4 linked regions of the Homo sapiens genome follow. The protein of the gene in region 3 purifies or fractionates together with the protein of the main gene of each other region. This does not show direct contact. Each region holds a gene or a part of one and is shown on either strand. Other genes may lie near its edges.

The links.
Region 1: the proteins of HENMT1 (region 3) and KIF3A purify together in Homo sapiens (affinity purification with mass spectrometry; 2 studies listed by BioGRID and IntAct, with this or other methods). This does not show direct contact.
Region 2: the proteins of HENMT1 (region 3) and PECR purify together in Homo sapiens (affinity purification with mass spectrometry; 2 studies listed by BioGRID and IntAct, with this or other methods). This does not show direct contact.
Region 4: the proteins of HENMT1 (region 3) and SBF1 purify together in Homo sapiens (affinity purification with mass spectrometry; 2 studies listed by BioGRID and IntAct, with this or other methods). This does not show direct contact.

Annotation. Positions count from the first base shown.
Region 1 is NC_000005.10:132,726,950-132,734,851, reverse strand, and holds part of KIF3A (kinesin-like protein KIF3A), read left to right. Parts: intron 1-373; coding exon 374-647; intron 648-7,902. UniProt on the Homo sapiens protein: Microtubule-based anterograde translocator for membranous organelles. Plus end-directed microtubule sliding activity in vitro. Plays a role in primary cilia formation. Plays a role in centriole cohesion and subdistal appendage organization and function.
Region 2 is NC_000002.12:216,043,218-216,051,119, reverse strand, and holds part of PECR (peroxisomal trans-2-enoyl-CoA reductase), read left to right. Parts: intron 1-1,746; coding exon 1,747-1,857; intron 1,858-7,104; coding exon 7,105-7,216; intron 7,217-7,902. UniProt on the Homo sapiens protein: Participates in chain elongation of fatty acids. Catalyzes the reduction of trans-2-enoyl-CoAs of varying chain lengths from 6:1 to 16:1, having maximum activity with 10:1 CoA. Has no 2,4-dienoyl-CoA reductase activity.
Region 3 is NC_000001.11:108,650,559-108,658,460, reverse strand, and holds part of HENMT1 (small RNA 2'-O-methyltransferase), read left to right. Parts: intron 1-881; coding exon 882-1,010; intron 1,011-2,762; coding exon 2,763-2,875; intron 2,876-3,610; coding exon 3,611-3,745; intron 3,746-7,251; coding exon 7,252-7,431; intron 7,432-7,902. UniProt on the Homo sapiens protein: Methyltransferase that adds a 2'-O-methyl group at the 3'-end of piRNAs, a class of 24 to 30 nucleotide RNAs that are generated by a Dicer-independent mechanism and are primarily derived from transposons and other repeated sequence elements.
Region 4 is NC_000022.11:50,464,704-50,472,605, forward strand, and holds part of SBF1 (myotubularin-related protein 5), read right to left. Parts: intron 3,759-7,902; coding exon 3,673-3,758; intron 3,221-3,672; coding exon 3,083-3,220; intron 2,991-3,082; coding exon of another isoform or gene 2,988-2,990; coding exon 2,829-2,987; intron 2,746-2,828; coding exon 2,635-2,745; intron 2,008-2,634; coding exon 1,902-2,007; intron 1,780-1,901; coding exon 1,647-1,779; intron 1,556-1,646; coding exon 1,447-1,555; intron 1,372-1,446; coding exon 1,258-1,371; intron 1,138-1,257; coding exon 1,060-1,137; intron 626-1,059; coding exon 512-625; intron 427-511; coding exon 298-426; intron 215-297; coding exon 116-214; intron 36-115; coding exon 1-35. UniProt on the Homo sapiens protein: Acts as an adapter for the phosphatase MTMR2 to regulate MTMR2 catalytic activity and subcellular location. Promotes the exchange of GDP to GTP, converting inactive GDP-bound Rab proteins into their active GTP-bound form.

The sequences.
Region 1 (7,902 bases), on a different chromosome or scaffold from region 3:
TTGAGTTAAAGTTGTTAACCATGTTCACATGTGTTTTCCTACAGGCAGGAAACGCTGGGTCAGAGACTTTTGTGCAAAAAGATGATCTATAATATACTGGTTCAGTTTCTGCTTGTACAGCCTTTGCCACAAATGTGAACTAGCTCTTCTCTCCCTTTTACATTTTAAAAGAAACGATTTTCCTTTTTGTATCTTTTAATAAACTTTTCAGCTATATGTAAGATCTTTAATTGCATTTAACAAATACCTGTGAAGTGTTTAATGTGTGCAAGGCACTGAGTTGGAAAAGTAGCCTTTTAAAGTTTATAAATTTAATCTGATGAGGGTAAAAATTAATGTTCTTTTCATTATTTGTAAATATTATCTCCAACAGATCAATAAATCAGAGAAGCCAGAAAGCTGCGATAATGTGAAGGTTGTTGTTAGGTGCCGGCCCCTCAATGAGAGAGAGAAATCAATGTGCTACAAACAGGCTGTCAGTGTGGATGAGATGAGGGGAACTATCACTGTACATAAGACTGATTCTTCCAATGAACCTCCAAAGACATTTACTTTTGATACTGTTTTTGGACCAGAGAGTAAACAACTTGATGTTTATAACTTAACTGCAAGACCTATTATTGATTCTGTACTTGAAGGCTACAATGGTAAGTGAATCTTTACTTTTTAAAAAACTCCCTTATTGAGACATAATTACTGTGCCATAAATTCACATATTGCAGCTGTGCAGTTTGATGAGTGTAGTAAATATATACAGTTGTGAAACCATCATCACAATCCAGCTTTAGAACACCCTTGTCATCCTCAAAATTTCCTTTATGCCCATTTGCAGACCCACCCCCAAGCAACTATTGATCTGCTTTCTGTCACTATAATTTTGCCTTTTCTTGAAATGTCATATAAATGATGTCATATAATATGTCACCTTTTTTATCTGTTTTCTTTCACATCAAATAATGTTTTTGAAGTTTATCCTGCTAGGATTTTCATAGGGATTGTGTTGAATTGTCATTCTGACAATATTGAGTCTTCAGTCCATGAACATGATACTTCTCTTCATTTAAAACGTTGAAACATTAATGAATTATGGACAGGGTCTTGCTCTGTTGCCCAGGCTGGAGTGCAGTGGTGCAGTCATAGCTTACTGCAGCCTTGAACCTGGGCTGAAGCTATCCTCTCACTTCTGCCTCCTGAGTAATGAGAACTACAGCTGTGCGCCACCACACCTGGCTCATTTTTTTGTTTTTGTAAAGACTGGGTCTTGCTGTGTTGCTCAGTCAGGTCTTGAACTCCTAGGCTCAAGCAATCTCCTACTGAGGCCTTTCAAAGCCCTGGGATTTCCCATGTCAGCTACCATGTCCAGCTTCTCTCCATTTATTTATATCTTAATTTCTCTCATCTGTATTTTGTAGCTTTTAGTGTACAAGTATTGCACTTGTTTTGATTAATTTATTCCTAAGTATTTTTTTGATGCTATTGTGAATAGGATTGCTTTCATAATTTCAATTTTGGATTGTGTGTTACTAATATATAGAGATGAAATTGATTTCTTTAGGTAGCTTTTGTGATAAAATTCAAATATCAAATTTATGATTTTAACCATTTTACACTTTATAGTTCATAGGTACATTTACAATGTCGTACAGCTGTCACCGCTGTCTGTTTCCAGAACATTTCTATCACTCCAAAAAGAAACCCTGTATCCATTAGCAGTCAGTCACTCCCAATCCATTACCACCTCCCTTCCCCCAACCCAGCAACTACTAATTTACTGTCTATATCTATTCTATGAGTTTGCCTATTCTGGACATTTTCTATAAATGGAATTATATGCTATGTGGCCTTTTGTGAATAACTTCTTTCACTTACAGTGTTTTCAAGCTTCATCCCTATTGTAACATATAAACATATATCAGCAATTCATTACTTTTTTTTTTTTTTTGGAGACGGAGTCTTGCTCTGTCGCCCAGGCTGGATTGCAGTGGCGTGATCTTGGCTCACTGCAACTTCTGCCTCCTGGGTTCAAGCGATTCTCCTGCCTCAGCCTCCTGAGTAGCTGGGACTACAGGCGCCCGCCAACACACCCAGCTAATTTTTTGTGTTTTTAGTAGAGACGGGGTTTCACCGTGTTAGCCAGGATGGTCTTGATCTCCTGACCTTGTGATCCGCCTGTCTCAGCCTCTGAAAGTGCTGGGATTACAGGCGTGAGCCACTGCACCTGGCTGATTTTTGTATTTTTAGTAGAGACGGGGTTTCACCATATTGGCCAGGCTGGTTTTGAACTCCTGATCTTGTGATCCACCCGCCTCGGCCTCCCAAAGTGCTGAGATTACAGGCGTGAGCCATTGCACTAGGCCAGCAATTCATTATTTTTTATGTCTGAATAATATTGTATAGATATATCATATTTTGTTTATCCATTTATTAGTTGGTGAACATTTGTTGTTTCTACTTTTTAGCTATTACAGATAATGTTACTTTGAACATTCTTTTACAGATTTTTGTGTGAACATATGTTTAGTTTCTCTTGGGTATATACCTAAGAGTGGAATTACTAGGTCACATGGTAACTTTGTTTAATGTTTTGAGGAGCTGCCAAACTTTTCTACAGTAGCTACACCATTTTATATTCCCATCAGCAATGTGTGAGGTTTCTGATTTCTTCACATCTTTGCCAGCACTTGTTACTGTCTTTTTGATGACTGCCCTCTTAGTACCCACAGTTGATTTTTGTATATTGACCTTGTATCCTGAAACTTTGCTAAACTTATTAATTCTAGTAGTTTTTTTATGTTTTGGGTTTTTTGTAAATTTTGTAGGATTTTCTACTTGTAAGAATATGTTGGCCAGGCACAGTGGCTCACGCCTGTAATCCCAGCACATTGGAGGCCGAGGCAGGCAGATCACGAGGTCGGGAGTTCGAGACTAGCCTGACCAACATGGTGAAACCCTGTCTCTACTAAAAATAAAAAAATTAGCCAGGCATGGTGGCACGTGCCTGTAATCCCAGCTACTCGGGAGGCTGGGGCAGGAGAATCGCCTGAACCTCGGAGGCGGAGGTTGCAGTGAACCAAGATCGTGCCATTGCACTCCAGCCTGGGTGACAGGGCAAGACTCTGTCTCAAAAAAAAAAAAAAATGTTGTTTGCAAGTAAAGACAGTTTTTACTTTGTCCTTTCCAATCTCCTTTAATTTATTTTTGTTACCTGATAGCACCTGGAGGCTAGAACCTCCAGTAAATTAGAAGTGGTGAGAGTGGACATTTTGGTCTTGTTCCTGATCTTAGGGAAAATGCATTCATTCTTTCACCAGTATGATGATGTCTGTAAATTTTAACAGATATCCTTTGTAGGTTTGAGGAAGTTCCCTTCTATTCTTAGTTCGCTGAGAGTTTTTGGATTGTATATTGGATTTTGTCAAATGTAATTTTTTTTCTGCACCTATTGAAATAATCTTTTTTTTTAAGGTTTGTTAATATGGTCAATTACATTGATTGATTTTTGAATGTGAAACTAGCTTTGCCACTTGGTCATGATGCATTATTCTGTTCATATATTGTTAGATTTATTTGCTAAATTAAAAAAATTTTGGCATCCATGTTCATGAGGGATGTAAGTATATAGTTTTCTTCTAATGCATTTTTCTGGTTTGGGTATTGTGATAATGCTAGTTTCATAGAATGGGTTAGAAAGTATCCCCTTCTTTTCAGTTTTCTAGAAGAATTTGTCTAGAATTGGTATTATTTCTTAAATGTTTGGTAGAATTCATCAGTGAAGCCATCTGGGCTTGAAGTTTTCTTTGTGGGAAGGTTTTCAACTATTGATTCAATTTCTTTAATAGACATAAGACTATTCAGATTATGTATTTTTTCTTTTTCTCTTTAAATCAGGGTCTCACTCTGTTACCCAGGCTGGAGTACAGTGGCACAATCACAGCTCACTGCAGCCTCGACTTCCTGGCCTTAAGCAATCCTCCCACCTCAGCCTCCCCAGTAGCTGAGGCTACAGGTGTGTGCTACCACGCCTGGCTAATTTTTTCTATTATTATTATTTTTTTCTTGAAACAGGGTCTCACTCTGTCGACCAGGCTGGAGTGCAGTGGTGTGATCATGGCTCACTTAGCGTCTACCTCCCGGGCTCAAGCGATCCTCCCACTTCAGCCCCCTGAGTAGGTGGGACTATATGTGTGTGCCACCGCACCATGCCCAGCTAATTTTAATTTTTTTTTGGTAGAGATAAGGGTCTCACTATGTTTTCTAAGCTGGTCTTGAACTCCTGGACTCAACCAGTCCTCCCACCTCAGCCTTGCAAAGCACTGGGATTACAGACATGAGCTACCGTGCCCGGCCAGGTTATCTATTTTTTCTTTTTTTTTTTTTCTTTTTTTGAGACAGAGTCTTGCTCTGTTGCCCAGGCTGGAGTGCAGTGGCGCGATCTCGGCTCACTGTCTCCTCTGCTTCCCCGGGTTCCAGCGATTCTCTCGCCTCAGCCACCTGGGTAGCTGGGATTACAGGCACACGCCACCATGCCTGGCTCATTTTTGTAGTTTTAGTAGGGACGGGTTTCACCGTATTGGCCAGGCTGGTCTCAAACTACTGACCTCAGGTGATCCGCCTGCCTTGGCCTCCCGGAGTGCTGGGATTACAGGCGTGAGCCACCGTGCCCAGCCAGTTTTTTCTTAAGTGAGGTTTGGTAGCTTGTCTTTCACGGAATTAGTCCGTTTCATCTAAGTTGTCAAATTCATTGGCAAAAGGTTGTTTATACTATTCCCTTATTATTCTTTTAGTATGTTGAATGTAGTGGTATAACTTTTCTCATTTTTGATATTGGTAACTTACGTCTTTTCTTTTTTTCCTGATTAGTCTGACTAGAGGTTTATCTTATCGATCTTCTCAGAGAACCAGCTTTTGGTTTTATTAATTTTTCTTTCTGTTTTTATGTTTCCTATTTCATCTATTTCTGCTCTGATCTTTATTTTTTTTTCTTACTTACTTTGGGCTTAATTTCCTCTTTTCTTTCTACTTAAAGTGGAAGCTGAGGCCATGGTTTGAGACCTTTTTTCCTTTCTAATATGGGAGTTTAATGCTATAAATTGCCACTGAGTACTGTTTTAGTGTCATCCCACAGATTTTGACATACTATGTTTTCATTTTCATGTAGTTCAAAATACTATTTTACCTCCTGATTTATTCTTTGATCCTGGGTTATTTAGAAATGTGTTATTTAGTTTCCAAATATTTTTAAATTCTCTAGAGATTTTTGGTTATTGGTTTCTAATTTAATCTCAATTTAGAGAACATATTTTTTATGGCTTGAATGTTTTTAAATTTATTAAGACTTGTTTTATGACCCAGAATATAGTTTTGTTGTTGTTGTTGTTTTCTGTTTGTTTTGTTTTTTTCAAGACAAGGTCTCACCCTGTCACCCAGGCTGGGGTGCAGTGGCACTATAACGGCTCATTGCAGCCTCAGCCTCCTGGACTCAAGTGATTCTCTCGCTTCAGCCTTCCCAGTAGCTGAGACTACAGGAGCATCCCACCATGTCTGGCTAATTTTTTTTTAAATTTAGTTTTAATTTCAATAAGTTTTTGGGGAACAGGTGGTGTTTAGTTACATGAATAAGTTCTTCAGTGGTGATTTCTGAGATTTTGGTGCACCCATCACCCAAGCAGTGTACACTGTACCCAATGTGTAGTCTTTTATCTCTCACTCGCCTCCCACTCTTTCCCCTGAGTTCCCAAAGTCCGCTGTATCGTTCTTACGCCTTTGCACCCTCCTAGCTTAGCTCCTACTTGTAAGTGAGAACATACGATGTTTGATTTTCTGTTCCTGAGTTACTTCTCTTAGAATAATAGTCTCTAGTTCCATCCAGGTTGCTGCCAGTGCCATTATTTTGTTCCTTTTTATGCATGCCTGGCTAATTTTTAAAATTTTTTGTAGAGATGGGGTCTCACTGTGTTGCCTAGGTGTTGCCTAGCTGGTCTTGAACTCCTGGGCTCAGGTGATTCTCCCACCTCAGCCTCTCAAAGTGCTGGGACTATAGCAGGAGCCACGGCACCCAGCCCAGAATATAGTTTATTATATTTATTTATTTATTTATTTATTTATTGTATTTTTTGAGACAGAGTCTCACTCTGTCACCCTGGCTGGAGTGCAATGGTGCGATCTTGGCTCACTGCAGCCTTCGCCTCCCAGGTTCAAGCAATTCTTGTGCTTCACCTTCCCGAGTAGCTGGGACTACAGGCATGTGCCACCACACCCAGCTAATTTTTGTATTTTTAGTAGAGGTGGAGATTCACCATGTTGGCCAGGCTGGACTCAAACTCCTGACCTCAAGTGATCTGCCCTCCTTGGCCTCCCCAAAGTTCTGGGATTACAGGCATGAGCCACCCCGCCTGGCCATAGTTTATTATCTTTAAATAATAGTAATAATAATAAATAGTGCCTATTTTTTAGGATTGGGGTGAAAGTTAAATAAGAATGCAAACATAGCTGGGAGGTGCACCTGTAATCCCAGCTATTTACAGGTGGATTACAGGCAGGAGGATTCTCCTGAGCCCAGGAGTTTGAGGCTGCAGTGAGCTATGATCGTGCCACTGCTCTCTAGTCTGAGTGACAGGGCAAGACCTCATCTCTTAAAAAAAAAGCATGTAAAGTACATGACCTAGCACATAGCAAATGATCAGTAAGTGACAGCTGATGTCCTTATAAAGCTTATTTTTTATTTAATAATTTAATGTGTCTATTCTGAAATGCAGTCTATGAGCTCATGATATTTTCTGCTTCAAGTGCAGTGTTATATTCCTAATAGCAGAGTTTGAAATACTTAGTCAGTTTGAAAAAATTAAGACTTTTTTATTCCCATGTGTAAAAAATGGCTTCTGGTATGATTCATTTATTTTCACGGAAAAGTCTGAAAAGTGTGTTATGATTATTTTCACAAAAAAAAGTCTGAGAAAAGTTGAGGTTAACTGAATAGAGTAGTATTAGTTGAGGAACCGTTTTCATATATGCCATCACATCCAAGGCTATCTTTTCTTACTACACTGTGTCCTGACCAACTACTCCAGCCCTCTGTTTCCCCACATCGACCCTTGGTTTTCTCCAATTCTTCATCCACAATATAGCCATAGTGATCATGATGTCACTCCTCTGATTGAAAAATCATTCTATGGCTTCATGTTGCTTTTAGGATAAGGTCTAAAAAGTTTAATACCGTCCTTATTATACTGTGTGATTATGGCATTGTCAGTTTCTCTAGCTCTGCCTGCATCCATCTTCCCTTTCCATCTCTGTTTCTTCCATTCTGGTCTCATTTCAGTCCTCAAAATTTCCATTCTTTTTCTTGGCTCTTGCTGTCCACACTGTTCCTATCTGATTCTTACTTGTATTTCAGATCTAAACCTTACCTCTTCTGGAAAGTCCTCCCTGACCCCCTCTCCTTTTTCCCATTACAATTCCTGTGCCTAGTTGATGTCCCTGACTCCCATCTAGAACTCCCTGTTTCTCATTCTGAATACTCATCATCATGATAAACCCAAGATTATACACATCATAAGATTAGGGATTGTGTTTGTCTTGTCACTGTGTCTCTAGTGCCTAGCACAATGCCAAACTCAGGTGTGTGGTAAATGTTTGTTGAATGAATGAATTTGGGTATTTAGAAAGTTGAGATTTTATCTTTAGTTACCTGTAATAATTGTATTGTCATCTTTTTGTTAACTCTGTTTCTTACAGCTGTTACTTTAAAACAATTGTTTAAAAACACACTTATTTTAGGATTAAGAAAAAAGCTATCATTTTACTGATACTTTCTATGAGGTGTTGTGTTGGTCACTTGAAGGAAATTGTCTCATTTGGTTCTTACTATCAATGGCGAATTTTCTTATCCCCATTTTACGGTTG
Region 2 (7,902 bases), on a different chromosome or scaffold from region 3:
GAGATGGGTTTTCACCATATTGCCCTGGGTGGTCTCGAACTCCTGAGCTCAGGAGATCTGTTCGCCATGGCCTCTCAAAGTGCTGGGATTACAGATGTGAGCCACCGCACCCGGCCCAGAAGGTCTAATTATCATTATGGAAGTACTCTTTGATTTACAGCCAGATTGTCAAGAATGTTAAACCAGTGATTCTTGATTCTGGCTTTTTTTTTTTTTTTTTAGAAGGAGTCTTGCTCTGTTGCCCAGGCTGGAGAGCAGTGGCGTGATCTTGGCTCACTGCAACCTCTGCCTCCTGGGTTCAAGTGATTCTCCTGCCTCAGCCTCCCAAGTAGCTGGGACTACAGGCACCTGCCACCACCCCTGGCTAATTTTTGTATTTTTAGTAGAGACGGGGTTTCACTGTGTTAGCCAGCGTGGTCTCGATCTCCTGACTTCGTGATCCACCCACGTCTGCCTCCCAAAGTACTGGGATTACAGGCGTGAGCCACTGCGCCCAGCCTATCTATAGATCTTATCTCTGTAATATCAGTAGGTGTTATCTGTGCCACTCAATGAAGACTATGCATGACTGACTTCAAGCATGAAGTTAGTAATCTCATCTCTGACAAAGGTGTTGCTACTAATATTAATTCATGTTTGCCTTCCAGAGACTTTTTTGGTTAAATGATCAAATTTTAATACTTCTAGATTTTATCCTCTTTAAATAAAAGGCAACATATTATGTAATTGGAAACCAATATATCTCTCCAGTATCAGTATCATTTGAAGTTATTAAAACTGCCACATTTTCTAATTTTATTTTAACTTCTCTTTCCGCCCCTTCTCTCCATAATTCAACAGTTTGAATCCATTACAAATAGCTGTATCCTGTGAGATACAATTTTTTTTTTAAATGTTTGAGACAAGGTCTTGCTGTGTTGCCTAGGCTGAAGTGCGGTAGTGCGATCACGGCTCACTGCAGCCTCGAACTCCTGGGCGCAAGCGATCCTCCCAACTCAGCCTCCTGAGTAGCTGGGACCACAGGCAGGTACCACCATGCCCAGCTAATTCTTTTTTATATTTTTTGTAGAGACATAGTCTCCCTATTTTGCCCAGGCTGGTCTCAAACTCCTAGGCTCACACAATCCTCCAGCTTCACCCTCGCAAAGTGCTGGGATTACAGGCATGAGCCACTGCACCTGGCCTGGGATACAGTTTTTGAGTAATTTTCCTGACCTTAGAAAGCCAGTGAAAGATACATTTAAAAATTCCTAAACAATGAAAAATTTAGTTTATTGGTATTGGACTCAAATGCTTTATTTGCGATTTCAATCTAGGTAAAAAGCCAAGAAAATATTGCATTTTTCTAAGTCTCACGTAGCCATTGCCCAGTCTTCTCTTGTAAAGCAGAGAAGCCAAATGGAAACTAAAATAGACAGAGTCCCCTGTCCCATTGTTCCCAGTTAAGTGCCTCTTTCATTTACTTACACAATCATGACCTTCAGAAAACAAGTCTTTCATGAAAAAATCCAGGGCATGGTTAGGAGGAAGAGGAGGTCACAAAATAACTATTCAGATCATCCATTTGTGGATGGTGGGGACTGTACTTCTTTGACAACATGGAGGAAATTTAATATCAGCACTGTTAACTTTTTTTTGACTTAAGCTACTTAATGTTTGAAATGCCAGTAGAGTATCTTGATATCTTTATAATTAAAATTTAATATAATACACTTTATTTTGTCCCTGTTTTATTTTTAAACACAGGGAGTTATTTATTCCCAGACTGCTGTGGAGAACTATGGTTCCTGGGGACAAAGCTTCTTTGAAGGGTCTTTTCAGAAAATCCCCGCTAAACGAATTGGTGTTCCTGAGGAGGTAAGGTATATTTCCAGCATTGATTAGAATTGCTGTGTGTTATACTTTGGAATTTGTAATTCAGTGTCATTTTTATGCGGTCTGGACGACATTATTTCTCCCACTGCCAGCAGAACATTTCCCCTGTTCTTTCTGGCTGTCAGGGATATTCTGGTTGTGCTTTGGCTACTGACAGCAATCTGTACTTGAGAGTGAATGTGGTATAAATTAATAACAGCATTTTTTTTGTTAGTTTGTTTTACTGTATTTTCAGCTACATTATTTTATTACATGGCATTTGTTGGTACACAGGACCCTAAGCAAATTAGACAACTATGGCCATATGAAGTTCCACATGAGATTTCGGTTAAGGTTGAAGTCTGTAAAATCAGCAGCTTTCCAAACTGCCAGCAGCGGTTTTTTTTTTTTTTTTTTTTTTTGCTTGAGACAGTGTTTCACTCTGTTACAGGCTAAGTATAGTGTCACGATCATAGCTCACTGCAGGCTTGAACTCCCACCTTGGCCTCCCAAAGTGCTGGGATGATGATGATGACGATGATGAAGACGATGACTTTTTTGACAGAGTCTCTTTGTTGCCCAGGCTGGAGTGCAGTGGCGCGATCTTGGCCCACTGGAACTTCCACCTCCTGGGTTCAAGCAATTCTCCTGCCCCAGCCTCCCGAGTAGCTGGAATTACAGATGTATGCCACCACACCTGACTGATTTTTGTGTTTTTAGTAGAGGCGAAGTTTCACCATGTTGGCTAGGCTAGTCTCGAACTACTGACCTTAAGTGATACGCCCACCTCAGCCTCCTAAAGTGCTGGGATTACATGTGTGAGCCGCCACACCTAGCTTTGCATCAGTCTTGAAATGCAATTTTTTTTTTTTTTTTTTTTTAAGAAAACAAGGCCAGGCGCAGTGGCTCATGCCTGTAATCCCAGCACTTTGGGAGGCCGAGGCAGGCGGATCACGAGTTCAGAAGATCGAGACCATCCTGGCTAACACGGTGAAACCCCGCCTCTACTAAAAATACAAAAAAATTACCCGGGTGTGGTGGCGGACACCTGTAGTCCCAGCTACTGGGGAGGCTGAGGCAGGAGAATGGTGTGAACCCGGGAGGCGGAGCTTGCAGTGAGCTGAGATTGCACCACTGCACTCCAGCCTGGGCGACAGAGCAAGACTCTATCTCAAAAAATAAAATAAAATAAAATAAAGAAAAGAAAAGGATGTCTTTCCCACAATAATAAAAATGAAAATAACTAGTAGTAAACTTACCTCTAAATGAAAAAAAAAAAAAATCACCTGCCTCCTTAGGGCAGTAGGCAGTGCATCAGTTTCATAAATGAAAAAAACAAAACAAAACAAAAAAACCCCTTTTTCTGTGAAGCAGCAAAAAGACCAGATTAGGGGCATATAATATTCCTTGATGGGGAGAACCAATTTTATTAAAAAGTCAGGTTTCCCTAAATTATAAATTTAATATCTTTTGGGAATTTAACACGCTGATTCTATCAAAAATATGTATGCAAAAATTGCCAAAAATGTTTTGAAAATGAATAATGGGAGGATTACCCTTCATGGTATAATGAAACCATGAAGCTATATTTATTTATGTACTGTGTATTTACATACTATGAAGCTGTATTTATTTACAGCATCTGGTGCTGGTAATGAAACATATTAAAAATAGTAGAACAGAACAGATTCTTGAATTGGAACCATATGTGGGAGTTTATGGAGTCAAAGTAGCATTTCAATCTGTAAGGAAAGGATAAAACACTCAGCAAAGTGTTGGGGGCATTTGGCCGTTTAGTAATAAATTAGACTCCCTATCCTGTATTATATACAAAATAACTTTCAGATTTATTGAAGTGATAATTATAAAAGCAAGCCCATGAAACTCTTTAAAAGAGTTATCATGCTTAGAACTAGCTTTTATTATCAGTTTGGTGAATGTCTTTCCAGAAATGTACTTTGCATGCATTAAAAATTTGTATTTGTTGACTTTTTTTTTTTTTTTCCTGAGACGAAGTTACACTCTTCTTGCCCAGGCTGGAGTGCGGTGGCACGATCTCGGCTCACCACAACCTCTACCTCCTGGGTTTAAGCGATTCTCCTGCCTCAGCCTTCAGAGTAGCTGGGATTACAGGCATGCGCCACCACACCTGGCTAGTTTTGTAGAGACAGGGTTTCTTCATGCTGGTCAGGCTGGTCTTGAACTCCTGACCTCAGGTGATCCACCTGCCTCAACCTCCCAAAGTGCTGGGATTATAGGCGTGAACTACCACGCCTGGCCTATTTATTGACTTTTTTACGAAAACAGAATTTACTCTGTGTTATTTTCTGAAACTTGTTATGGGTATACTATAATATCATCAAATCCCATTATGATTTGGATTTTATTTATATTTTTGTTCTTGCAGTAATTCTGCAATGAACATTATGAATATAATCATGTACTCTTGGGTGAGGGGATATGTTTCTAGAAACAGAGTTCCTGAACCAAAATAGACTTGCATTGTATTTTGGAAGATACTGTTAAATCAAACATTTGATGAGCCATGTTAACCAAGGTCTTTGGATTTGTATTCTGAAAACTAAGAGTAATATTTAATGAATTTTAATCAAGGCAATTATATTACATTTTTATTTTTGATAGAATACTTTGGGAGGCTAGGCACAGTGGCTCACACCTGTAATCCCAACACTTTGGAAGCCTAAGGCAGGTGGATCACTTGAGGTAGGAGTTCAAGATCAGCCTGGCCAACATGGCGAAACCCCGTCTATACTAAAAAATACAAAAATTAGCCAAGCATGGTGGCATATGCCTGTAGTCCCAGTTACCTGGGAGGCTGAAGCAGGACAATTGCTTGAACCCGGGACACGGAGGTTGCAGTGAGCAGAGATTGCGCCACTGCACTCCAGCCTGGGTGACAGTGAGACGCCTTCTCAAAAAAAAAAAAAAAAAAAATATATATATATATATATGTATGTATATATATATACTTTATGTGGTTTACATTATCTATATTTGCTGTATTAGAAATTAAAACCAAAATTTAAGAAATATTATTAATTCATTTTAAAATAGTAATAAAGGAGTACATGTTAACATAAATAACATTTACTTTAAAATAGCTACATTTAAAAAAAGAAACAAAAACTTTTTTTTTTTTTTTTGGTTCAAGCGATTCTCCTGCCTCAGCCTCCTGAGTAGCTGGGATTAACAGTCATGCACCAGCATGCCCAGCTAATTTTTGTATTTTTAGTAGAGACAGTGTTTCACTAAGCTGGCCATGCTGGTTCGAATTCCTGGCCTCAGGTGATCCACCTGCCTCGGCCTCCCAAAATGCTGGGATTACAGGCGTGAGCCACCGCGTCTGGCCGGTTTTTTGTGTTTTTGAGGGAGTGTGGTTTACAGATTGTTAGAGGTTGTGACTACTTGGGTGGGATGGTTGTTGTCTGGATGGCATTTCAGAAAGGAGCTCATTGGAGCAAGTCTCTTTTTGATGCGCTGACTTTAACAAACATGTTCATTGGCTGAGTTGTCACTACTGGATCAAACAGGGTTAAAACCAGCTCTGTTGCTTGTTACCATGTCTCAGTACAATCTGCCTTTTCACAGTAATGTGGGACCTTTTAAATAGTGAATTCTATACCAGCCCTGTCCAGTAGAAATATACTAATAGTCACATTTGTAATTTTAAACTTACCAGGAGCCACATAAAGTAAAAAGAGGTGAAATTAATTTTAATAATATATTTGACTTAGCCTAATACATCCAAAACATCGTCATTTCAACATGTAATCAACATGGAAAATTGAGATGATTTTCTTCATCCCTCGGAGCATCCAGGATTAATGAGATATTTTACATTATTTTTCCCATACTCAGTCTTCAAAATCCAGTGTGTGTTCTATACTTACAGCACGTCTCAATTTGGACCAGTCATACTGAAAGTGTTTGAGTAGGCGACTATGTCTAATGGCCTCGTTTTAGATAGTGCAGCACTGTACTAGCTGCTGGGAATACAAGGATGGAGAGAAGGCTTGGCTGCTCTCCAAGCTCTTAGAGTCTCAAGGAGGTATAGCCTTGTGAATATAGGACCAGGACTGGGATGAGGCAAGCAAGGCATGGACACAAAATTTAAGGACCCACTCCCTCTGAGGGAAGATTTTGCACTTGTGCAAACCTGAGAGTGAATACCTCCTTAAATCTTGCACCCTCGACACCTTATTTGCCTCACCCTAGTCCTGGCCCTGCCTGGGGGCCTTTTAAACTGCAGATTCTGGGACCCCAACCCCAGAGCTTACAATTGCAATGATCCTGGAAGGATCTAGGAATCTGAAGTCTCAGTAAGCATCCCTAGTGATTCTAATGCAGGTGTTTTGGATCATCACCCTTTGAGAAACTCTGCTTCTTCCCACAGCCTCAAGTGAGAGCTCCTTTACAAGTCAGTGAAATAACTTCCTTCTGTTTGGGTTGGGAGTAGATGTTGCTGAACTCATCAGTTCCCTATTTGAATTTTTAAGGAGTACAGTGGGAGTCTGAAGTGCCTTTGGTTTATTTTTATTTTTATTTTTTTGAAATGGAGTCTCACTCTGCCACCCAAGCTGGAATGTAGTGGTGCAGTCTTGGCTCACTGCAACCTCTTAGGCCCACGCAATGCTCCCACCTCAGCCTCCTAAGGAGCTGGGACCACAGGTGCCCGCCACTGTGCCTGGCTAAGTTTTTGAAGTTCCTCTTGTAGAGAGCTCCTTTGAATGTGTGTTGCTGGGCTTTTGGCCTGACAGGACCGCAGACTGAACAAACCAGAATGCTAGTTTATTGCTAAACAGACACATTGACTATTTCAGGGACCAAAACATAAAAGGCACGAGGTAGTGATGGAAAATGGGGTTGTGGAGGACAATGAAAGGCATGGAAGGAAGTGAATTGTTTGAAATGGGAAAGAGCAGAGCTGAAGCACTGAGTTCACTTATGGCTTCTTGACGTCATGTAGCTTGCTTGACATCGTCTAAGGCTCCCTCATACCTTGCCACCTTTACCCTAGTCACCTACCTGATTTCGGTGATGCTCAGGTAGAAAGGGAAATTGTAGGAAAAGGAAGTTGTCTATGTACTGTGAGGTTGTGGTGCACATGCACACACTGTTGGATTCATGTTACAATCATGGGCTTTGAGATGCCTTTACTGGGGAATGTGAGGCGGTTAGAAATGGGGAGTATTTGCTTTTACCTATGCACATGTGTGTTTCTGTTTCCAGGTCTCCTCTGTGGTCTGCTTCCTACTGTCTCCTGCAGCTTCCTTCATCACTGGACAGTCGGTGGATGTGGATGGGGGCCGGAGTCTCTATACTCACTCGTATGAGGTACCAGGTGAGCAGCTGAGGAATGAGCAGTCACCAGCTTTATGCTGTGTCATGTTCAGGGGTTTAAAATTTATTATAAGTAGTTACTTAAGAGATGAGGGTGCTCTCTTATAGAACATCAAAATGTACAAAATGTTTATATTCATGATGTGATTTTTTTAATGAAATATTCCTAGTCACAGAAAATATCTAACTATCTATATTATGGAACTGAGCTTTTTGTGCATGCATAGGTTGGTGGAATTTGAACCCTGAAAAATATTCTCAGTATATGTTTCGAAAGAGGAGACAGAAAAGAGGCAAGAGCATGCTATAGTTTTAAAGATTTAATTCCATTTTGTTCCTCCAGTAAATGGCTTACATATCTGAGCAGAAGAATCAGGCCTGCTAGGTGGGGTGGGGTGCTATGGTGCTATTTTGTGCTCTCTTTGAGATATATATTGAATGAAGGCATATGAAATTTCTGTATTCATCATTTTTGATGTACAAAAACAGAAATTTGGCCGGGTATGGTGGCTCATGCCTGTAATCCCAGCACTTTGGGAGGCTGAGGCAAGTGGATCACTTGAGGTCAGGAGATAGAGACCAGCCTGGTTAACACAGTGAAACCCCGTCTCTACTAAAAATACAAAAAAATTAGCCAGGCTTGGTGGCGGGTGCCTGTAGTCCCAGCTACTTGGGAGGCTGAGGCAG
Region 3 (7,902 bases):
ATCCTCTCTCTCTCTTAAAAAGAGTGTTGGCTGGGTGTGGTGGCTTACACCTGTAATCCCAGCACTTTGGGAGGCCAAGGCGGGTGGATCACGAGGTCAGGAGTTCAAGAAGAGCCTGGCCAACATGGTGAAACCCGTCACTACTAAATACAAAAATTAGCCAGGCATGGTGGCGCATGCCTGTAATGTAATCCCAGCTACTCGGGAGGCTGAGGCAGGAGAATTGCTTGAATTGAGGGAGGCGGAGGTTGCAGTGAGCTGAGATCGCGCCACTGCACTCCAGCCTGGGTGACAGAGCAAGACTCCGTCTTGGGGGGAAAAAAAAAATATATATATATATATGTGTGTGTGTGTGTGTGTATATATGTGTGTGTGTGTGTGTGTGTGTGTACATATATATGTGTGTGTGTGTGTATATATATGTGTGTGTGTGTAAGTGTGTGTACATATATGTGTGTGTGTGTGTGTATATATATGTGTGTGTGTATATATATATAGTCAGTCATTATAAATATTTTCCAGCCTCCTGCCTACTTGGACCACAGGCTTTGGCGACTCACTCCACAAAAGGTCCCTTATGGTTAGGAGTCATCTAATTGTTTTCATTGAATACATTCATTGGTAATGTTCCCTTCAGCTGAAACTAAGCTATAGGGAGCATACAGCTAGATTCTCTCTTGTTAAAAGGCATGAGAGGATGCTTACATGAACTGTGGAGGAAATGCAGTGCTACCTAATGATTTTAGGACAAAGGGTATGTGAAGGCCAGTGTGTTTTTCAAAGTGATTGGGGGAAATAAAGTTTTTTTTTTTTTGCCCCTTATTTAATTTCTGAAGTCATGCATGATTTAGAACCTGTCTTTTTTTGTTTGTGAACTTCAGTGCAGTAGTGTGGTTGACGGTAATTTTGAAGAAGTTCCCAGGGAGACGGCAATTCAGTTTAAACCTCCACTATACAGACAGCGGTACCAGTTCGTTAAAAATTTAGTGGATCAACATGAGCCTAAGAAGGTAGGTATTTCTCTTTCCAAACATTTAATTATTAAGACTAGTAGACTAGTCATATGAGGTGTTTTGTCAAATGGATTAGTATGGAGAGACTTTTCACAGGGGTTATTGCAATAGGGAGAATGCCGTAACCACAAGATCTGCAGGTGTCTCAAGAGTTAAGCAAAAGGGGTTTTTCTTTTACTGGAGAAGTGAACAAAGCTAGAAACTAGGGAGGTGGGATGAGAGGGTGGTTTGAAAGGACAGTGGAATGGGGAGCCTTAAGGAGGGGGCTGTTTCCTCAGGCTGTAGTGCAGGGCCCTGGGGGAAGAAGTAAAGTTTGAATAAAGTATGGTTAAAAAAGGAATTTTCTTCCCATTGATCAGTGGGGACAAGTATTCATGATAATCATTTGAGGCAAAGAATGGAAACACAAGGAATCTTATCTAAGTTTTATGGAGGAGGGTGGTTTTTTGCAGTGAGCCCTTTCCTGGAACACAAAGCACAGGTGGATTCCTTTAGCAGATGCCAGAAACACAGGGCTCAGACAGAATTCAGCATTGTCAGGTTCAAATGTGAAGAAAATCTTAAGATTTTATAGTTGGATGTGATCTTGTAGGTACCGTACTTCTAGAGCATTTAGTTAGAATATCAGGCAAACTGGTATTGTAGCCACAGGTATTGTGGTTCTTTTAAAATTAGATGATAATGGGCCGGGTGCAATGGTTTACACCTGTAATTCCGGCACTTTGGGAGGCTGAGGCAGGTGGCTAGCTTGAGACCAGCCTGGCACCATAGTGAGACCCTGTGTCTACAAAAAATAAAATTAGCTGTGCATGGTGGTGCGTGCCTATAGTCCCAGTTACTCAGGAGGCTGAGGTGGGAGGATCCCTTGAGCCCAGGAGGTTGAGGCTGCAGTGAGCTGTTATCACCTGCATTCCAGCCTGGGCAACAGAGAAAGAGCCCGTCTCAAAAAGAAAATTAGATCATAATGAACCTACTCGGTTAACTTCAGAGTAAAGTCATAATTGCATATAATCTACATCCATCCATCCATACCTGGTTACTATACTAATGGATTGGATGTGAATTAGATGCGGGTAAGGTGAATTTCTAGATGAAAGCTTTCTTTTTCTGCTTGATGTTGAAGACTCAGTGAAGATTCCTGTGTGTGAAGGTTTCCCTTAACTCCACCACTACTGTTTCTACACTTGGACACAAAGGCGTAGGTATTAGTTTATATCTTTGTAGCCATCTAGGCATGTGTATTCAGGTAAAGCATCTAAAATTGGCTTTTTGGCAGCTCAGAGTTCAGTATGGAATTTCAGATGGTTTGAGGTAATTGTTTAATCAAATAAATGTGTGAGGGGTGAAAGCTAAGTTTTAGAAAGCTTTGTTTGCTGAAATATGCTGAGAATATTTGACTCCAAATTCTGATTCTGAATGGGAAAACTGTGTGTACGTAATTGTTTCTCATTAGTTCAATATAGACAATAACAGTTGTTCTGGAATAGGAATGGACCTTTCTATTTTAGTGTGATCAAATAGAAATTTGCCTATGGGCTTATAAAGTTTCAGGTTAGTGTGTGTGTGTGTGTGTGTGTGTGTGTGTGTGTGTGTGTGTGTAGCATCTTCTGCCAAAAAGATCCTTCCATATAATACTTTCATTATTTTATTACTGATATATACTCCACTCTCTCCTCCTCAAAAAAAAGTTTTTGATCATACTTCTCTTGCTATAAATGTCTTTGAAATAACATTCTGTCTCATCTACAGGTTGCAGACCTGGGATGTGGTGATACTTCACTCTTAAGGCTGCTAAAAGTCAATCCATGCATTGAATTGCTTGTTGGAGTAGATATTAATGAGGATAAATTACGATGGAGAGGGTAATACTTAGTTTCTGAAAGAATTATGCGTTAATCTAAAACTAATGGCATTATTGAGTTTAGAGAAAGTGTTGATTTTATATTTGTTTTAAAAGATTGGGGCCATTAGGGATCTTCAACTCACTGAATAATCAGGCTTTGCCATAACACTAAAAATACCTGCATTTTATTGCTACCAACTTAAAGAATAGCCTCAATTAAATGATTATAATAATCAAAGCATTGTAAATTAAAATTCAGATAGCAAAATCTCATCACTTTAATGCTGGACACTATGATAATTTATAGCAGAGGATTTAAAATGCCCCAGAACACTGAGGCCAAGGCTCCAGGCCACCGCCTGCATTTTGAACCATAGCATTTCTCCTATCTCTTGTATATATAGTATATATACATTAGATTTCCACAGATTGCTTCAAGAATATTCTTTTTCTAAAGAACAAAAATCTCAAAATCACTGAATCAAAGTAAGCTGGAAAACCAAAAGTATTACAAATGAAAACAATATAACAATATTAAATATTCAGTCTTTTTTTCATTGGCCAGTAACTTCCCACTGTGAGAGGAAGTTTCCCCATGACCTGGTCTTTAATATGTCAAGACAAGGAAAACAGGCTGTGTCAGACTTATATCAATAGAGGTAGAAGATAATTATCAGAGGATCTGAGTTCTGTAGCTGGTGAGAATTTTTAAATAGATAATGTTCAGAAAGTTTCTTCAATAATTATTTTGCAGGGATTCGTTAGCTCCTTTCCTGGGGGATTTTCTGAAACCTCGGGATCTGAATTTGACCATCACATTGTATCATGGCTCCGTTGTGGAGAGAGACTCTCGTTTGCTTGGATTTGACTTGATAACGTGTATTGAATTGTAAGTTTTAAACTGATACACTGTATAACTGTTCATTTGAAAAGCCTGAATAAGTCTCAGTGATCTTAGTGTCCTAAATATAATAGGTCTTGATTATTGTAAGGAAAACTGCTCATTGGTTGGGAATATCTTTTTACTCTGCTTTTCCAACATTTTACTTAGAAATTTCAAGTATACAGATAAATTGCCACAAATACATAGTACCAAGAATACCTATACCCCCCTTTATCCAGATGTTAACATCTCACTTTTTAAATCATTTGTACATTGCACCCTCCCTCTCCTGTTCACCCCTCCTCCATCTCCCTTTAGAGTTATTTTTTTTCCTGAATCAATTAAGGGTATACACATGGCCTTTTGCCTCTACTAAAAAATTCAGTTTAAAAGTTGGAGGCCTCACACTACTTGACTTGAAAATGTACTACAAAGCAGTAGTAATAAAAACATCGTGGTTCTGGTATAAAAACAGAGACATAGACCAATGGAACAGAATAGAGAGAACCCAGAAATAAATCCATGCATTTACAGCCAACTGATTTCAACAAAGACACCAAGAACATACATTGGCAAAAGGACACCCTCCTCAATAAATGGTACTGGGAAAACTGCATATCCATATGCAGAATGAAATTAGACTCCTATCTCTCACTGTATACAAGCATCAACTCAAGATGGATTAACGAGTTAATTGCAGACCTAAAACTATGAAAGTACTGGAAGAAAACAGGAAATGCTTCAGGACATTGGTCTAGGCAAAGATTTTGAGTAAGACTACAAAAGCACAGGCTACAAACAGAAATACACAAATGGGAATATATGAAACTGAAAGGTTTCTGCACAGCAAAGAATAGAGTGAACAGAACCTATAGAATGGGAGAAAATACTTGCAAAGTATTCATCAAGGGATTAATATCTAGAATATACAAGAATCTCAACAGCAAAAAAACCCCAAATAAAAAGTGGGCAAAGGACCTGAACAGATATTTCTCAAAAGACATACAGATGGTTAACAAGTAGATGAAAAAATGCTCAACATCACTAGTCATCAGGGAAATGCAACTCAACCACAGTGAGATATCTCACCCCATTTAGAATGGCTGTTATTAAAAAGACAGTAAATGCTGGCAAGGATGCAGAGAAAGGGAACTCATATAAACTGGTGTGAATGTAAATTAGTACAGCCGTTATTGAAAACAGTGTGGAGGTTTTTCAAAAAACTGAAAATAGAACTGCCATGTGATCTAGCAATCCCACTACTGGGTATTTATCCAAAGGAAAGAAATCAGTTATATTGAAGAGAGATGTGCACCCCAATGTTTATTAACAGCACAGTAGCCAGGATACGGAATCTACCTAAATGTCCATCAGTAGATGAATGGATAAAGAAAGTGTGGTATTTAGGCTGGGCATGGTGGCTCACGCCTGTAATCCCAGCACTTTGGGAGGCCGAGGCAGGTGGATCACCTGAGGTCAGGAGTTCAAGAGCAGCCTGGCCAACATGGTGAAACCCCGTCTCTAGTAAAAATACAAAAAAATTAGCTGGGCGTGATAATGGGCCCCTGTAATCCCAGCTACTTGGGAGGCTGAGGCAGGAGAATCACTTGAACCTTGGAGGCAGAGGTTGCAGTGAGCCAAGATCACGCCATTGCACAACGAGCAAAACTCCGTCTCAAAAAAAAAAAAGGGATGTATATGCACAATGGAATACTATTCAGCCCTAAAAAAGGAATGAAATTGTCATGGATGAACCTGGAGGGCATTAAGTGAAATAAGTCAGGCATAGAAACACTGTTGCCTGGGCTGGAGTGCAATGGCGCGATCTCGGCTCACTGCAACCTCTGCCTCCTGGGTTCAAGTGATTCTTTTGCCTCAGCCTCCCGAGCAGCTGGGATTACAGGTGCCTGCCACCACACCTGGCTAATTTTTTGTATTTTTAGTAGAGATGGGGTTTCACCCTATTGGCCAGGCTGGTCTTGAACCCCTGACCTCGTAATCTGCCCACCTCGGCCTCCCAAAGTGCTGGTATTACAGGCGTGAGCCACTGTGCCTGGCTGGTTTACAATTTTCTTGTGAATTGCATAGAAGCTCAGCCCTCTGTGAAGCATTTTTGTCAATGTCTAGTTTGCTTAGGACACACTGACTTAGATGGGATGGCAGCAAGACTTTGTCAGACCCGGTTTTGGTAACATTTAATTGTTATATAATTGCAAATTTACAGAAGTTGCAGGAATGGTCCAAGGAATTCTCATCTGTTCTTTACCTAGATTTACCACTTATTTATATTTGATCCTATTTACTGTGTCTTTTTCCCTAAATATAACTTTCTACGTGTATTTTTTATCTGAACCATCTCAGAGTAGGTTGGATACACTGTGTCCTGTTACCCTAGATACCTTGGTATGTATATTCTGAGAACAAAGACTTCTTACCATAACCATGTAATTCTATCAGGAAATTGAACATTGATACAGTACGATTACCTAATCTAAGTCCACATTCAGCATTCATCATTTGTTCCAGTAATGTCTTTCTATAGCTATTTTAAAATTTAGCTATAATTTAAAATGGCCCAAGATCACACAATGCATTTGTCACGTTTGCCTGGGCTCCTTTAATCTGAAGCAGGTCTGTGCAGCCTTTCTGCCTGGTCCTATTTGCCCTTGATATTTCTGAAGAATATGTGCTATTTTCTAGAATGTCGCTGTATCTGAGTGTCTCCTCATTATCAGATTCAGGGCATGCATTTTTGACAAGAATATCATAGAAGTGATTTTGTCCTCCTTGATGCATTATATCAGGGAGGTATAACCTCAGAGACTTTTTTTTAGAGGTATTGATAATGAGGCCATAGAGCACAGCAAAGGACCTTGGTTGGATAAGGGAGCCATCATAGATGGAGTTGGGGGGTAGGAAAGGATGAGAATATATGAATAATTGTTCTTTTTCCCCCTCCCCTCCCCTCCCTTCCCCTCTCTTCTCTTCTCTCTCTTTCTCTTTCTTTCTGTCTGTCTCTCTCTCTTTCTTTTCTTTCTTTCCTTCCTTCCTTCCTTCTTTCTTTTTCTTCTATCTTTCTTGACTGAGTTTTGCTTGTCACCCAGGCTGGAGAGCAATGGTGCAATCTTGGCTTGCTGCAACCTCTGCCTCCTGGGTTCAAGTGATTCTCCCGCCTCAGCCTCCCGAGTAGCTGGGATTACAGGCATGCACCACCACACCCAGCAAAATTTTGTATTTTTAGTAGAGACAAGGTTTCATCATGTTGGCCGGGCTGGTCTTTAACTCTTGACCTTGGGTGATCCATCCACCTTGGCCTCCCAAAGTGTTGGGATTACAGGCGTGAGCCACTGTGCCTGGCCCGAATAATTGTTCTTAGGTCATATAAGCATTATTACATATTCAAAGAAGGGAGAAATCGATACACAGATGGAAATTGTTTTTGATAAATCAATTAGAAAAATAGGTGCAAGTGAAGCTAGATTTTATTATGTCTTTCTCATTAACCATTTTAGAATAGAACATTTGGATTCAGGTGATCTGGCCAGATTTCCTGAAGTGGTATTTGGGTACCTGTCTCCATCCATGATTGTCATCAGCACACCAAACTCTGAATTCAATCCCCTGTTTCCATCAGTGACCTTAAGAGATTCAGATCATAAATTTGAGTGGACCAGAATGGAGTTTCAGACCTGGTAAGTTCAGAAGGGTTTTTGTTTATTTGGGATCCTGTTGGAGTTTAAAATCTTAGGAAATAAATATTGATATACATACATTACCTAAATTGTTTTGTACTTTCTTCCAATAAAATTGATTCCAATGTGTGACTTAGTATGTAATAAGATCACAAAGGAACCATTGCATTTGGGCAAGTGTGGAAAGGGGGTGTGGTTACTGGGCACCTTTTATGTGAAGGCATCTGTAGTACTGGCATGGAGATGAGGAACAAAACAGAGGGAAGGTTTGGGACAGTGAGAATGAGCCTCATGCCCCTCCCCGGGATATCTCCTGAGGCTTAGTCATGTTTTCTGGTGTAATTGCAAACCCAAATGGGTAGTTGGGTTGAGCACTTGTTGCCTCCTTGTCCACCCCTACACCCTGCCCATAATTTTCCTTTCGTCTTCCATATTCTTAGGGTAAATTGGAAACTGACACTATATCCTTGC
Region 4 (7,902 bases), on a different chromosome or scaffold from region 3:
ACCTTGTGCATCGCCACGGCTGGGTACGGGTTCTCCTGTGGGGAGACGGCAGGTGTGGGGCAGGGGCCCAGGGATCAAGGCGGTACGACGCCCTCCCGTCCTGCTACCCTCGTACGTTCTTGTAGAGCTGCTCTGCCAGTTCCTGGACGTGACGCAGGACACGCTGGGGGTGGTTCTCATCCGCCCGCATCCTTGCCACCTCGTGGGCCACCAGCTAGCGGGGTAAGCAGGAGGTTAGGTAAGCCATGGTCAGGCGGAGCCAGGGCAGGGGGCTGGGAGGGCAGGGTGGAGGTGCACCTCATCGAACAGGTCCGTAGGGCGGTATGGGACCCCACGCTCTGACACAAAGCCAGCAAAGGCCATGCCCTCCAGCACCTTCATCAGGAAATCGTCCTCTACCAGCCCACGCTGGCCCAGGAAGGCTGCCTGGATGACAGAAGGAGGTCGGTCCCTCAGGGGTCTCCACCATGCGCTTATCTCCTACCCCACGCCCAGCCACCAGGCACCCCACCTTATGGAAGCGGATGACAGGCTCCGGGTGGATGCGCACGACGTGCAGGCACCAGCGATAGCCCTGCAGCAGCTGAGCGAACAGCCGCAGGAAGACCGCGCGCAGCTCCTTGTCCTGGGAGAAGAGCTGAGTGCAGGTGAGAGCCAGTCCTGCCAATCCCCACCCCAGGCTGCCCAGGAGCTTCTCCACACCCCAACCCACCCCAAGCTGCCCCGCTCCCATCCTTCTGCCCCTCCCACCATTCTGCACTCAGGGCCACCAGCTCCTCTGAAACTGTCTGGACAAGGCACTCCTGGCTCAGCACCCTCAAGGGCTCCTGTGATCAGACGCCAAGTTCCAGCCCCTTGCTGGGCCCCTGCCGCCTCGCCTGCACCACTCACGACCACCACTCCTAACTGCTGGCAGCTGCTTTGCTCCCAGGCTCCTGCTTCTGCTACTGGAGCCGGGGCCAGCCTGGGGGTGGGGCCCTGTGTGTCAGTGGCAGCAGACCTGAGTGGGGGCAGCCTAAGTGCCTGGGGTCCCCATGCAGGAGCAGCAACGACCCCCACCTGCATCTTCAGGGAGGAGGTGGATGTCGTGGGCGGAGGGAAGGCGAGGTCAGCCAACTCCAGCTCCGGGTCCAGGACCTGCCAGCACAGAATGGAGCAGGCAGCTGCACGCTGGCCCCGGCTCTAGGCTCCCCGTGCTGCCAGGTAGCCACATCCCAAAGGCCCCCAAGGCTCCCGCTTGCCCATGGTGCCCCTCACCATGCTCAGCACACTGTGCGTCTGACTCTGCAGTGGCTCTGGCAAGGGTGGAATGTGCACACACTCAGGAATGGTGACCGTCCCTCCATCCAGATCAGCAACAATCACATCGAGCTGCGGACCAAGGGAGCCGGCAGTCAGGGACCTGCAGGCCTGGGCCGTGAGGTGGACACAAAGCACAGCCCTTACCAGCTCCTGGGTCTCTGCCTGGAAGGCCGCGTTGACCCCAATGATGAAGGGCGTGGGTGTGCTGAGGACCTCCAGCAGCTGAGCCGGCAGGATGGGCACATAGGTGAAGCTGTGCAGGCCCCAGAGGATGCAGTGAGCCAGGGGACGCGGCTGGGCAAAGGGGCCAGGAGAAGGGGCTGGGAGGGCCGGGCAGGGGTCACCTGTATCTGAGAGGAAACAGCAGTGCCAGGAGGCCCCTACAGGCATCGGCGAGCCGCTGGTAGCTCCGGGACAGGAAGAGAACCTTGTGCTCCGTGAGGGCGGCACAGAACAAAGACAGCACGTTGGTGATGCCTAAAGGAAGAAGAGAAGCTTGGAGAGGACCCTGGGCCCCCACCCAGGCAGAGTGAGAACCCACATCCCTAACTACCAGTCCCCGAGGGGAAGCCATGCGGGGGTGGGACAGACAGGCTCACCTAGCTGGCGGAAGAGCAGGGCCACGCTGCAGCGGCTGACGGGCAGCGAGTCGGCCAGTGGAGTCTGGATGACCTGCCGGTCACCAGCCCCCAAAGAGATCGTCCTCTGCAGCAAAAAAAGGATCGGGGCTCAGTAGTTTGGCCAGAGCCAGCCCAGAGTCAGCCCAGAGCTCTGTGTCCCCAGGCAGACCCTGGTGTACTGACAGACCCGAGGTGGGACTGGCTGGGATGGGCAACATGGCAAGAGGGAAACGCCATGCCCTGCCTCTGTTGTCCCAAGCAGCTGCAGAGAAAACTCAGGACAGGAGTGGCTGCTTTTGACTTGGGGGTAGGGATGGGGCCTAGGTGGGCGGAAGAAACAAAGAATCCATACCGCTCCTTCCTCAACAGAGTCCAGCTGCACAGGACAGACGGGCAGAAAGACACGGTTAGACACTCCAACACACCCAGGCACAGGGCAGGGAGCAGACAAACAAGCTGACATCAACATCCAGAGACAGGCACACACCATCAAAGGAGTGGACAGAGAGGCTGAACGACACAGGCCCAGAGCACAGGTGCGAGGGCCAGGTAAGCAGGCCAGGACTGTTGGGGGCAATGGTGGCACGAGGACGCAAGAGGGAGCATCCAAGGCCTCCAGCTGTGTGTGGCTCTGGCTGGGCTCCAAATACCTACCAGGGCCCCAGCAGGAGGGCCTGTGGCTGTGCAGATACCAGCTGCCTCCAAAACTCACCTGCGAGCCCCCAGCCAGGGGCACAGTGCACGTCAGCAGGTTCCCAATCACGTTCTCCAGGCACACATTCAGGCCCTCCACGTGGATGGCATAGATGAGGCCAAGGCTGTTCTGCAATGACCAGAGCGGGGAGTGGTGGGACAGCCGATGGAAGCACCCTCGTCGTGCCTCGCCGCCCCGGCTGCCGGCCTCACCCTGAACACCTCCGTGTGGTCGAGTCGCGACACCAGTACCAGCGTCTTCGGTGCAAACAGCTGGGCAGATGGGGCAGGTGCTGTGGGAGACAGGTGGGTCTGGCCTCCCTCATCCCCCTCTTCCTCCCTCTCTGTGGCATCCTCCACGCGCGTCGTTTCCTGCTGGGGGTCAGGGGGAGACGGGGGCAGGGGGAGTTGGCCACGGCCCAAGGATGCAGCTTCATTCATGCTGTACCCAGAGGCCCCAAGCTGACCTGTGAAGGCTCCGCTGGCTCCCAGAAGGTCAAGCAGGCGCAGTAGTGGCGCTCGGAGTTGATGTCGGTGAGGACAGCAACAAAGAAGGTCGGTGGATTCCTCTCGGGACACAGCTGCCACCCGCTGGGCTGGCAAAACTGCAGGGAAGGCTCAGCAGTCAGCTCCTCCCCCTACACCTGTGGCAGGAACCAGCCCACCCGCCCCAGCATCTGCACCACCAGGCCTGGAGGCTCCAACACACACAGGCAGCTCCTTGCTTGGAGACCCTGGGGACACGTGGCCTCCTGGGCCTCAGTCTCTCCGGGTGAAGGGAGTAACAGCCTCTGACCTCCCCACCTGGGGCAAGGACCAGGAGATGGGAGAACAGTCCCCACCATCATGAGTGAGTGACAACATGACACAGTGACATGAGCACCGCACAGGCCGCCGGCCAAGCCGGTCAAACCCCCCGACAGAGGCTCTGCTGTCTTGTCCCTAGCCCAGCGGGGGGCCGGGCACTGTGGAGGCCCCTCAGTCAGGGACAAGGGCAGGGCTGTGCCCACCTGCCCTCCCCACCTGCCAGCACCGTCTCAGCACGCCCCCAACTCACCAGCTCGATGCCCTGGGGGAATGGGTTGTCCTCCCAGTCCTTCTCTGGGAAGCGCTGCAGAATCTGGCCCTGGCCTTCCCCACTCCCTGAGGACAAGAACAGGGGGTCAGAGCACCCAACCCGCCCCCCACCCACCAGGAGGCTTGAGGATCCCAGGGTGGAAACATTCCCACCCACTGGGCCCTCATCTGGCACCAGATCAGCCACAGCTCCCTAAAAATAGCTCCGTATGGAGAGTCTGCTTGACAGCTGCAGACCCCAGGGCCACCTGAGGGTAGAGAAGCCCCTGCCGCTACACCCCATTCTCCGATCCCACCCCAGAGACCTCCTTCAGCCTGACCAGCCCAGCTTCACACAGCACAGCAGCCCTCCATCGAAGGTCAACACTTCGGGACTGTTCCACAGGCCCCCACAGCATCTGCCACCACCGCCAGGCCCCCACTTAGGCTCTCGGCCCCCCAACAGTGGGCATCCCCCAGAGCTCCCTGTCACCCACCAGCCCTGGACCCAGCCGGGGGTGTGGAGGACTCAAACCTGCTGTCTGTGTGGGGTTCAAGAAGCCTCAGCCCCACAAGGCTAGAGGACACCCCCTGCGCCCACAGCCCCAAACTCTTCCCTATCCCAGCTGCTTCAGAGACAGACAAGTCCCCAGTACAGGTCCCAGAAGATGGGGTTTGGCAGCTCCCTGTTAGAACACCAGCCCCACAGCCAGCAGGACCTAGAGGGGCAGCAGCTAGACGGGAAGGATGGAGACTTGGTCCAGGACGACCACCGAAGGATGCCCAGATGGCTTCCTGAGCACCTGGACCCCAGCAGCTCTCAGAGGAGAGTGGGACGGTGGTCACACCCAGGCCTGCTCCCTGTCTCCAAATCTCCCTGTACAAAGGCCATAGGATGGGTGCTGAGCACAGCCTAAGCTCCCCTGGGCCAGGAGGAGGGCTTTCAGGGCAGGGAGAGCCAAGAGGCCTATGTCTCCCCACCAGACCCCTCCTCTCCGTGGGGCCCCAGAACTACCACATCCAGGGCCCTGTTTCCAGGCCCAGTCCACACCGGTGGGGTAAAGGTCCCTGCCTGTGGCTCACCCCTGGAGAGCCAAACCAGGAAGCCCGGTGGGGACCACAGTGGGACACTCAGGGTGTGGCTCCCGCAGCAGGACGGCTCCGCAGGCCTCCCAGGGCTTGTGGAGGATGGAGCAGGTGCAGCAGGAAAGACGAAAGCCTGCCTGCCTTCTCCTCCACACAAACCGCAGGTCCCCAGGGCCCATCCTCTGTCTGGACGGGCCTCTACACCGCCACCCACCTGGCGGAAGCAGCAGAGCCAGATGGGCAAGGCGGGGGTCATGCTCAACACAGAGCCCCTCATGGACCCCCCACCCCGGCCCCCAAGAAGCTGCAGCCCCACATCCAGCATGCCTGGTCCTCCTGGGAACAGATGAGCAACTCTGGCAGCCCAATGGCACACACTCCACGGGTCCCCTACAGGCGGGGAGACCATCTGCCCTCCAGGGTTACAGGGGCAGAGCCAAGGAAGTCGGCAGTGGGCAGGCTGCTGCTAAGTGGGAGATGGTGGGGCGGTGAGGGGCCGATTCTGACTCACAAAACCTCAGCTTCCTGCTCCCCTCCCCCTCCCACCGACACCCTGCAGAGGACAGGCGGCAGACGGGTGGGGGCCCAGGTGTCTGCGGGTGCCACACCTACCTCCACACCCCCAAGGACAGCTCACTCAGGCGCAGGCCCTGAGCTGCGGCTCCTCCCCCACCCCGCCCACTCCCCCAAAGGCCTCCTTGTGTTTGGCCCCAAACCACCATCTGGGCCCAGCCCTGGCTGGCACCCAGGGCTCACCCAGTTCTTGCCACGAGGCAGCAGGTGGAGGAAGGAAGAGGGGTTTATGAACAGGGACAGCAGTCTCTGCACTGCAGCCTCCCCAAGGCCAGGAAGGGAAGGCAGCCTTCCCCAGGAGGATGGGCAGAGTGGCAGGTCACCATCTACCTTGACCCTCTCCACCCCCCGCTAGTCTTGTGAAGCATCAACTCTCACTCAGCCTTAAGTCCTCTGCAGGGCTCTACCCTCCAAAGAGCCAGCCCTGAGCTCCACTCTCCTTGGGCTGGCCCAATGGCCCAAGTGGGCCAGGCCAAGCAGGCACCTCTCCCTGAGCTCCTCTGTGCCATGACAGCCCCAGACTGGCCCTTCAGGTCTCAGCCCACAGAGCACCCCCTCCCCTGGGAAACTCTGCCCCAGCCTGGGGCCTACAGGGACCCTAGGACCGACCTCCCTCCACCACACCCCAGTGACTGCTAGTGCACCTGTTGGCTTGGCTGGGACGGACCACAGGCTAATTAGGGCTTGTAGAACACGTACAGTCGGCTACACAACCATCCTCCCCACACCCAACAAGCAAACAGGTTCCTCAGTCGGAAGTACAGGGCACCTTCCGGAGCCCCAGGGAATGACAGAACACAGCTGGCCCCTGGAAAGGCAGGCCATGGAGGGCCCTGCAGCCCTCAGCTGTGAGCAGCTCTCCTCCTCACCCTTCTGAGGTCCCAGCCTGCACCTCAGCTCTGTGCTGTCCGGGGCCAGGCCACATCTTGGCCTCCAGGGGGATGTGGGGGGTTTTGCCACATCTTCCCAGGGTCCCCCACCCACTGAAGCTCTATTGCCATAGGAGTGACCTCCAGCAGCTGAGCTCCTTGCCCATCAGAGTGCTGCCTTTACCTCAGAATACACAGGAGGGAGGGTGCCCTCCCCACTCCTCCCCTTGGCAACAGGACGAATCCAAACGGTGTGCTGGGTGGCACTGGGCACCAAGGTTTCCTTGCCACCTCCACCTCTGAACATGGGGCTGAGGGGGCCACCTAAGGACAACACTGGGGCTTCTGTCCTGAAAGCCCCTCAAAGAGCACTCCCTCCTGCACCAATGTCCCTGCGGCCAGCCCCACGCAGACGGCAGGCCTGAAAGGCGGGCGGGCGGGCAGGCGAACACAGACCTCGCGTTCTGTCATCTGCTGGCAGCACCCCATCATCAGTGCCAGGCTCTGACGCCTGGAGGGCTGGCCCAGGCCAGCGTGTGCTGTGGGGAGGCAAAGAAGGATGGCAGCCTCTCCTGTTTCCCCACCACACTCCCCACAGTGCACGAAGACCAGCCCTGGCCGGCTCTGCTGCTTGTGGGGAACCCAGCTATAGGAAAAGAGAAAAGAAGGAAGGACAGCACCTTCCTGCTACGCCACCCACCCAACCCCAACGTGCACATGGCTCCCTCGGCCGCAGCAGCAGGCCATGCGCAGGGCCCCTGCAGCTTCCACAGCCATCCCCCCCAACCTCCCCTGCCCATCAGACCTGAGCAGTTCTGACCCAAGGCCTTGGACCCCTTCCGGCTCCCAGGGTGGAGGCTGGGAGGCAGTTGAGGCCATCCCAAACAGCCCCAACCCGCTCCAGAGGGAGGGCAGGAACGTGGGTGGGGACAGTAGATGGGGCTCAAGAATGCAGCCAGCACATCACAGTCAGGAGGAGAGGCGAGGCCATAGGGTGAAAGGTCTTTTTCTCAGATCCAAGGGGTCCAGCCCCTCCTCCCAGGCAGATGCACACTCAGCTGCTGGAGATGGAAGGCCGATGGCCAGGTCAGGGCCAGATCAAATGTGTCTCCTGTTCTCAAAGACACCTCAGCACTGGCCACGCTGTGATCAGGCCAAGAGCCGGGCAGAGGCAGTCTGTCTAGTCCTGATGCCTGCCCCAGAGCACAGAAGGTGATCCCTGACTCACCAGGTGAGGGGCCTGCAGATGGGCCAGCGCTGGCCACCATCACTCTCTGAGGTGAAAGGGTCACGGCCAGCACAGGCATTTACCTTCTCAGGGCCCCTCCCCACCTTTCCTGAGAGGTTTCCAGCTGGTAACCACTAGCAACTGGGATGCTGCCTCAGGCAGGACTCATGCACCCTCAGCACCCTGGTGCTGCACCCAGCAGCTCCAGACAGGATGTCCAGATCCAGGCCAAGACAAGCTATCCGCCAATCCTAATCCCCAACCCAAGAGACCCTGCATCCCGCCCTGAAGTCCTAGCCTGACAGAACAGAGAGGATCCTCTACCCACTCAGAAGTGCCTGTTGTGTCTGTGCCTAGAGAGTTCACACACCTGCTGCTCAGTCACTAATGAAAGAAACTCATCATTTCCAGGGCCTCCTGTGTGCTACTGCTTCACACCTGTGCATTCGCTGCATCCTCACGGCAGCCTGGGAGG